Regions from separate parts of the Homo sapiens genome. Here region 2 is linked to region 1. The links come from fine-mapping of genetic effects on gene expression. A gene starts in region 1. The other region holds a variant in brackets. All regions are shown on one strand. Distances are from middle to middle.

What was found. PIP is the estimated chance that this variant, and not a neighbour inherited with it, causes the effect.
Region 2: its variant is fine-mapped to the expression of TAF1C in atrial appendage (GTEx, PIP 0.97).

The regions. Positions count from the first base shown.
Region 1 is chr16:84,185,355-84,189,741 of GRCh38, forward strand. TAF1C (TATA-box binding protein associated factor, RNA polymerase I subunit C) reads right to left here and starts at 1,703. Exons shown (of 15, transcript NM_001243156.2): 1 at 1,547-1,703. RefSeq lists an enhancer at 1,543-2,043 and a silencer at 1,689-1,898.
Region 2 is chr16:84,125,431-84,129,817 of GRCh38, forward strand. It overlaps HSDL1 (hydroxysteroid dehydrogenase like 1), which reads right to left. Exons shown (of 6, transcript NM_031463.5): 5 at 4,118-4,345. Among named protein-coding and RNA genes, the nearest start is that of MBTPS1-DT, 11 kb to the left of the region's middle. The variant G/T (reference allele first, on the strand shown) is at 1,943.

The DNA.
Region 1 (4,387 bases):
TAGAGCAGTGAAGTGTGTGAGAAAATGAGGCAGCCAGAGTGAGCGAGGTGGAGAGCGGTGGAGATGGAGTCAGAAAGACGGCAAGGGGCAGCCTCTCTCCCGGCTCGTAAGTACCGTCATCATACATTTACAGACTACACCCCCAAGACGCTCAAGTTACTCCACAGCCAGGGACTGCATCTGAGCATCGTCTTCCTACTGTCAAGCACAGTGCCTCCCAGAAAATGCACTAGGGGTTGAAAAAAATAAATTTCTATCACAAGGGGCCGGGCGCGGTGGCTCACGCCGGTAATCCTAGTACTTTGGGAGGCCGAGGCAGGCGGATCACCTGAGGTCGGGAGTTCGAGACTGGCCTGACCAATGTGGAGAAACCCGGTCTCTACTAAAAATACAAAATTAGCCGGGCGTGGTGACGCATGCCTGTAATCCCAGCTACTCGGGAGGCTGAGGCAGGAGAATTCCTTGAAGCCGGGAGGCGGAGGTTGCGGTGAGCTGAGATCGCGCCATTGCACTGTAGCCTGGGCAACAAGAGCGAAACTCCATCTCAAGAAAAAAAAAAATTACATCACAAGGCTTTGGTAAATACAGTCCTCTAGAAGTATGAGCAGCCATAGCATCCCTCCTTTTTAATTAACAAAAATAACAGGGGCAAAAATAACAGCAGCGCTCGCTGACCAAGCGCCAGCATCTATCTGCCAGGCACATGCTAAATGCTGCACTCTTCTATCGCCGTCCCTGTTAACAGAGTTCAGGAAACGAAGGCTCAGCAAGAACTTTAGTCCAACAGCTCTTAGCTGCCACAGCCAAGACTTGATTCCCATCCGATTCAGAGGCAGAGCTCCGAACCAGTGCTCTCGCATGCACCGAAATGCAAACGCTAGCATTAGAGTCTCGCTATACAAAAATCTTTTCCCTTTGGCCGGGTGCGGTGGCTCCCGCCTGCAATCCCAGCACTTTGGGAGGCCAAGGCGGGCGGATCACCTGAGGCCAGAAGTTTGAGACCAGTCCGGCCAATACAGTGAAACCCTGTCAATACTAAAAATACAAAAATTAGCCGGGCGTGGTGGTGTACACCTGTAATCGCAACTACCGAGGAGGCTGGGCACGAAAATCGCTTGAATCTGGGAGGCAGAGGTTGCAGTGAGCCAAGATCATGCCACAGCACTCCAGCCTGGGTGACAGAGCAAGGTTCTATCTCAAAAATAAAATAGAAACAAAAATATTTTCTCTTGGAACCGCATAGCCTGAAACGATCCTAGACAGGCGGAGGGCGCTGGTGGAGAGCACGACCCCACAAAAGCCCTCAGACAAGGCAGCCTCGACTTCCCCGGCCGGCTTCCCGCCCTCGCTGCGGGCTCTCCAGGACCCTTTAGACCTCCAAGGCTACAGAACTCAGTCGGATCCGCAATAACGACAGGCCGGGGACTGCGAAACGTGAGCCTGCCGCGGGGACTGGGGATTGGGGGCGTCCCTCCCCTCCTACATCTGCGGGTCCGCTCCTCGAACACGCGCAGTCCGCGCGGAGGGGGCGCATGCGTGCACTTACGTGACCCCGGCCTCGTCGTGGTCGTCTGGAAAATGGGCCTCGGCGTGATGCTCGCCGGACCCTGGCACCACGAGGGAAATCTCAAGTAGAACCCCAGCTTTGGCACTCGGGACGGGTCAGCCCCGCCGCAGCTACCCACGGTCTTCCGGTTTGGACCGGAAGTGCCTCCTGCGGAGGCAGGAAGTCCCGCCTCCCAGCCAGGCCTCTTAGGGTCCTGGCGCGCCCCCTCCCGGGAGGAGAGGGAACGGGCGTGCAGGCGGCGCGTGGGCAGCGGAAATAAAGCTCCCTTGAGTCCCAATAGTGGAGGCCGGGTGGACTTAGGTTCGAATCCCACATCTACTTCACCAATTTCCTCAGAGTTGTATTAAATTAATCATTTAACGAACTCCCACAGAACACCTACTATAAGCCAGACCTGTATTGGTCAGTAGGTATCCTACTGATTGTCCTTAAATCCCAAGAAGCGGGCTTTACAAATAAGGGTACAAATACCTACTAAGAGTGAAGCTTTTCCAGGGGTGGTCAGGCAGGGAGAGCTTTAGGCAGTGGTCTTCAAACTCTAGCTAGCGTGCGTCAGCAGTAGCACCTGGGGGGCTAGTTAAAACACAGTCTCCAATTCGGTGAGTCTGGGGTGGGACCTGATGATTTGCCTAAGTTCCCAGGTGATGCTGAAACTGCTTATCTGGGGGCCATGCTTTAAGAACCACTGTCCAGTCATGAACCTTACCGTTATCCTAACATAGTACTTCTCAAACTTCAGTGAGCCTTAGAACCACCTGGGGGGCTTGTTACAAGTTTGCTAGGCTCCACCCTACCTCTGCCCCCCGAGTTGCTGATTCAGTAGATCTGGGATGTGGCCCAAGAGTCTGCATTTCTAGCAAGTTCCCAGATGATGCTGGTCCAGGGGCCATACTTTGAGAACCGTTGCTTTAAAGAATCAATTTCCAAATTCTCAGCTGTCATCTATGTCTTTATTTATTTTTTTGAGATGGAGGCTAGAGTGCAGTGGCACGATCTTGGCACACTGCAACCTCCGCCTCTTGGGTTCAAGCAATTCTTCTGCCTCAGCCTCCCGAGTAGCTGGGATTACAGGCCTGCGCCACCATGCCCGGCTAATTTTTGTATTTTTAGTAGAGACGGGGTTTCACCATGTTGGTCAGGCTGAGTCTTGAACTCCTGACCTCAAGTGATCCGCCTGCCTAGGCCTCCCAAATTGCTGGGATTACAGGATGAGCCACCACGCCTGGCCTATATTGTTTTTATCTGGAAGTTTTTACCTGGACTAAAAGTGCCAGCAGGGCTGTGTTCCTTTTGAGAGGCTCTAAGGAAGAGTCCACTATCTTGTCTTTTCTGGCTTCTGGAAGCTGCCTGCATTCCTTGGCTCATGACCCCTTTCCATCTTCAAAGCCAGCAATGCCAGTCGGATTCTTCTCATGAGGCCATCTCTCTGGTTTTTACTCTTCTGTCTCCCTCTTTCCCATGTAAGGACCCATGTGATTATAGTAGGCCCGCCCAGGTAATCCAGGATAATCTCCCTATTTTATTTGTTTTATTTATTTTTTTGAGACAGGGTCTCACTCTGTCGCCCAGGCTAGGGTGCAGTGGTACCATCATGGCTCATTGCAGCCTCAACTTCCCAGGCTGAGATGATTCTCCCACCTCAGTCTCTCGAGTAGCTGGGATTACATGCAAGCACCACCATGCCTGGCTAATTTTCTTTTTTTTTTTTTATTTTGAGACAGAGTTTCACTCTGTCACCCAGGCTGGAGTGCAGTGGCGTGATCTTGGCTCACTACAACCTCCACCTTCCAGGTTCAAACGATTTTCCTGCCTCAGCCTCCCGAGTAGCTGAGACTACAGGTGCCTGCCACCACACCCAGCTAATTTTTGTATTTGTAGTAGGGACGGGGTTTCACCATATTGGCCAGGCTGGTCTTGAACTCCTGACCATGTGATCCACCCGCCTTGGCCTCCCAAAGTGCTGGGATTACAGGCATGAGCCACCACGCCCGGCCTAATTTTTGTAGTTTTTGTAGAGATGGGATTTCATCATGTTGCCCAAGTTGGTCTCTAACTCCTGGGCTCAAGCTACCTTCCCACCTGGGCCTCCCAAAGTGCTGGGGTTACAGGTGAGAGCCCTATTTTAAAGGCAGCTGATTAGCAACCTTACTTCCACCTGCAACCTTAATGCCCCCTTGCCAAATAATATACTCATAGGTTCTGGGGATTAGGCTGTAGACATCTTTGGGGGAACCATTATTTTGCCTACCACACTAATATTCTACATTACCCTTGTAAAACGCCTATCCAGCTTTGGCACTGCGAGGCCAGTTCCATTTCTTCCTTTCCTCCTTTCTCTGAATAAGCCATTATCAATTTGCTTTTGTAACTGACATATACTCAACATGCAGTAAAGCACACGAGTCTTAAATGTACAGCTCATTGAATTTTTATTCATACATAGAAACCCACATGAACACCACCCAGATCAAGACAGAGAACATTTCTATCACTCAAGAAAGTTCCAGCCAGGCACAGTGGCTCATGCCTATAATTCCAGCACTTTGGGAGGCCGAGGTGGGAGGGTTGCTTGAGTCCAGGAGTTCAAGACCAGACTGGTCAACAGAGCAAAACCCCCATCTCTACAAAATTTTTTTCTAAAAAGAAAATTCCCTGGTGCCACTTCCCAGTCAATACTTCCTTCAAGAAGGAACCACTATTTGGACTCTTATCACCACAGATTAGTTTTGCCAGTTCAAGAACTTTACATAAGTGGAATCATGGAGAGGATGTGTCTGGCTTCTTCCACGCCATGTGCCTAATAGATTCACCTGTGTTGTG
Region 2 (4,387 bases), 60 kb before region 1:
AATAAATACCCACCAATCACAATACCCACCAATCAATCACAATAAATACCCACCAATCGATCCCAACAAATACCCACCAATCACAATAAATACCCACCGATCAATCACAACAAATACCCACCAATCAATCACAACAAATACCCACCAGTCACAACAAATACCCACCAATCACATTAAATACAACAAAGGAAAAAGCCTCCAGGTACTACTGTACTGAATACCTACTTTTGCCTAAGATCTTACCCTAGATTCTACATGGAACAGAAACATGACCACCACCCACCTACCCGACTTTCTGTAATGAGGCTGGACTGTCCTGCATGTAAATACAATTCTGTCTTTACTTAACGTGATATGAACAAAATGTTCACTGGTTAAGAACCACAAAATCGGCTGGGCACGCTGGCTCATGCCTGTAATCCCAACACTTTGGGAGGCCGAGGCGGGTGGATCATGAGGTCAGGAGATCGAGACCATCCTGGCTAACAGGGTGAAACCCCATCTCTACTAAAAATACAAAAAATTAGCCAGGCGTGGTGGCGGGAGCCTGTAGTCCCAGCTACTCAGGAGGCAGAGGCAGGAAAATGGTGTGAACCGGGGAGGCGGAGCTTGCAGTGAGCCGAGATCGCGGCACTGCACTCCAGCCTGGGCAACAGAGCAAAACTCTGTCTCAAAAAAAAAAAAAAAAACACCACAAAATCATTATAGGAATAAATCAGTTGGAACAGACAGACGCATACGTGGTTAGTACTCTATGAGAAAACTGGGGCTTGAGGGGTAGTATGGAACAAAGTTCAACAAGAAAACAGGTCAGAAACACCAGTACCTTGGGATGGTATCTTGACCTATGATGGGGGTGCTCAGGGGACCAGGGAAGGGAGTCCTGCTGATGCTGCTCTGCTTCAGGGTCTCACTCAGGGCCTTTGTGCTAGCAGCAGACATAGGGCAATGTCTGAAAACAAATTTGGTCGTCACACTGGGAGTGGATGCTACTGGTATCTAGTGGGTGGAGGCCCAGGATGGTGTTCAACATCCTACAATACACAGGACGCTCCCCATGTCAAGGAATTACCTGCTCTCAATGCCAACAGTGCTGAGGTGGAGAAAGCCTACACTCCTCTAACAGATTTGTTCAGAACCGAATGAAAGTTCTAACACCGTGTATACGAAAGAGAAGAGAGACAGGCCCTTGGCAAGTACTGACATTCTAGTCTTGAACTGAACTGATGAATGATAATAGAGGTCATTCAATCCTCTTGTCAATAAATGGACACAGGTTACTCTCCAGGGAGGACACACCCACACCCACACACACACACACTCACGCACTTTGTGAACAAAATCACAGCAGCAAAAGCTATCAGAGAAATATGCCATGGACAAAACAGCAAAGGATGAATCAAATCTTTGATGTAAAATTGGAAATAAAAAATGATAGTGTTGAAAATAATTTGAGTAACATAAAATGAAAACAGAAAGTTTTAACAACTTTATACAGAAAACTACTCCAGGAATTAAATCAGCTTAACAGAATTTCTTGGCAGAAAAATACATTCTCAAGGAAAGTTTATCAATGTGAACAAAATTTAATTTTGAGTAAACTGTTCGTGTTTTATAAACACAGTCAAAACATCTACTGCACCTAAACCTGATCCTCATATCTTTATTTCTAAAAAAATTTTATGGTCAGTGACTTCTAAGACTACTTTTTAGGTTTCTCTGCTTTTCTCAAGTAATTAAAGGACCTGGAAACAACTACTTAAATAAAACTGTTTCTTCTTTTTTTTTTTTTTTTTTTTTTTTTGAGATAAGAGTCTAGCTCTGTCACCCAGGCTGGAGTACAGTGACGTGATCAGCTCACTGCCACCTCCGCATCCTGGGTTCAAGCGATTCTCATGCCTCAGACTCCCAGGTAGCTGGGACTACAGGCGTGCACCACCAT[G/T]ACCAGTTAATTTTTATATTTTTAGTAGAGATGGGGTTTCACCATGTTGGCAAGGCTGGTCTCGAACTCCTGACCTCAGGTGATCCACCAGCCTCAGCCTCCCAAACTGCTGGGATTAGAGATGTGAGCCACCACCACGCCCGACCAAAACTGCTTCTTATTAATCTCTCACTTTTCATAAAAGTCATAATTAACTGTTGATATACTTACATGTTTATTTGGTAGTGGCAAATCTAATACTCTTCATGCAAACAGTCCCAAAAATATCTGTTTGATAATTAAGAAAACTCCGAATATTAAAAAAAAAAAAAAATTCGGACCAGGTACAGTGACTCACACTGGTATTTTTTTTTTTTTTTTTTGTGAGACGGAGTCTTGCTCTGTCGTCCAGGCTGGAGTGCAGTGGTGTGATCTCGGCTCACTGCAAGCTCTGCCTCCCGGGTTCACGCCATTCTCCTGCCTCAGCCTCCTGAGTAGCTGGGACTACAGGCGCCCACCACCACGCCTAGCTAATTTTTTTGTATTTTTAATAGAGACGGGGTTTCACGGTGTTAGCCAGGATGGTCTCGATCTCCTGACCTCGTGATCCGCCCGCCTTGGCCTCCCAAAGTGCTGGGATTACAGGCTTGAGCCACCACGCCCTGCCAGCTCACGCTTGTAAATCCCAGCACTTTGGGAGGCCAAGGCGGGTGGATCACCTGAGATCAGGAGTTCGAGACCAGCCTGACCAACATGGTGAAACTCCATCTCTACTAAAAACACAAAAATTTGCTGGGCGTGGTGGCAGGCACCTGTAGTCCCAGCTACTCCGGAGGCTGAGGCAGGAGCATCACTTGAACCCGAGAGGTGGAGGTTGCAGTGAGCCAAGATCGCACCATTACACTCCAGCCTGGGCAACAAGAGCGGAATTCCATCTCAAAAAAAAAAAAATTCTAAACTAGGGCACATCTCTTTACTACACCAGATAAAGGAACTGAAATATATTGTAATAGATAATTATGCATTCTCAAATTAATACTTACGATCACAATTTCAAATATCTAAGAAAGTTACTTTCTACAGTACTAAAAGGTACCAATCCTTTGTCATGCCTAAACAATAAGCTTAAAATAAAAATTCTATGCTTCTTGAAAAAATTAGTCTAAGACTATACAGAGATATTATTTGATAAAATGGTTGCATGAAATATAGCCCTATCTTGTGGTTTTGTGGTTTTTTTGGATTATATTTTTCACTGAGAGGTAACCCTCAAGCAGTACTAGAATCTTTTACTTTGAAATTCCCATGTAAATACTTAGTATTTTTATAGTCCTAACATCCACTTACAGCAGCATATTTCTTTTTTTTTTTTTGGAAACAGAGCCTTGCTCTGTCGCCTAGGCTGGAGTGCAGTAGCGTGATCTTGGCTCACTGCAACCTCCGCCTCCAGGGTTCAAGCGATTCTCCTGCCTCAGCCTCCCAAGTAGCTGGGACTACAGGCACACACCACTAAGCCTAGCTAATTTTTGTATTTTTAGTACAGACAGGGTTTCACCATATTGGCCAGGTTGGTCTCGAACTCCTGACCTTAGGTGATCCACCCACCTCAGCTTCCCAAAGTGCTGGGATTACAGATGTGAGCCACCACACCCCAGCCAAAGTAGTATATTTCACTTTAAGGTGCCACATAGATTGAACTTTTGAAAATTCTTAAGGTAATAATTTCACAAAAGAAAATTTAGTGTCTTTGGTCAGGCACGGTGGCTCACGCCTGTAATCTCAGCACTTTGGGAGGCTGAGGCAGGCAGATCATGAGGCCGGAGATCAAGACCATCCTGGCTAACACGGTGAAACCCCGTCTCTACTAAAAATACAAAAATTAGCCAGGCGTGGTGGCAGGTGCCTGTAGTCCCAGCTACTCGGGAAGCTGAGGCAGGAGAATGGCATGAACCCGGGAGGCGGAGCTTGCAGTGAGCTGAGATCGCACCACTGCACTCCAGCCTGGGTGACAGAGCCAGACTCCATCTCAAAAAAAAAAAGAAAGAAAATTTAGTGTCTTAACCAAAATTATTAAGTGTCAGGCTTAAGAGTCAGAATTTACAATTCTCATCTTAGGCTTTAATCAGATTTCTCTGTATCACTGAGATAGGTTCATGATGCATTAATCTAATTATGAGACCTGAAGCACACTCCTACCTGAATAGAATGGGACCAATATCCTGTGGTCCTTTTGGAAATCCCAAGAGTAGAAACAGCATGATGTGCATAGACTTTTGGCGAAGGCACCAACCACGAGCACCTGTGCAGAAAGTTGCTGGGTGCTGTCATGCTGGTGGCTACATAGAAAGGGATTAGACTCTGTACAAAGATTCCTTTAGAGGCATATTCATATTGCAAGGCTCTGCTGAAGTGGTCTAAATAAGCCTGTTGAGACAGAGGGGAGGAAAAGACTTTTAATTCTGGGTG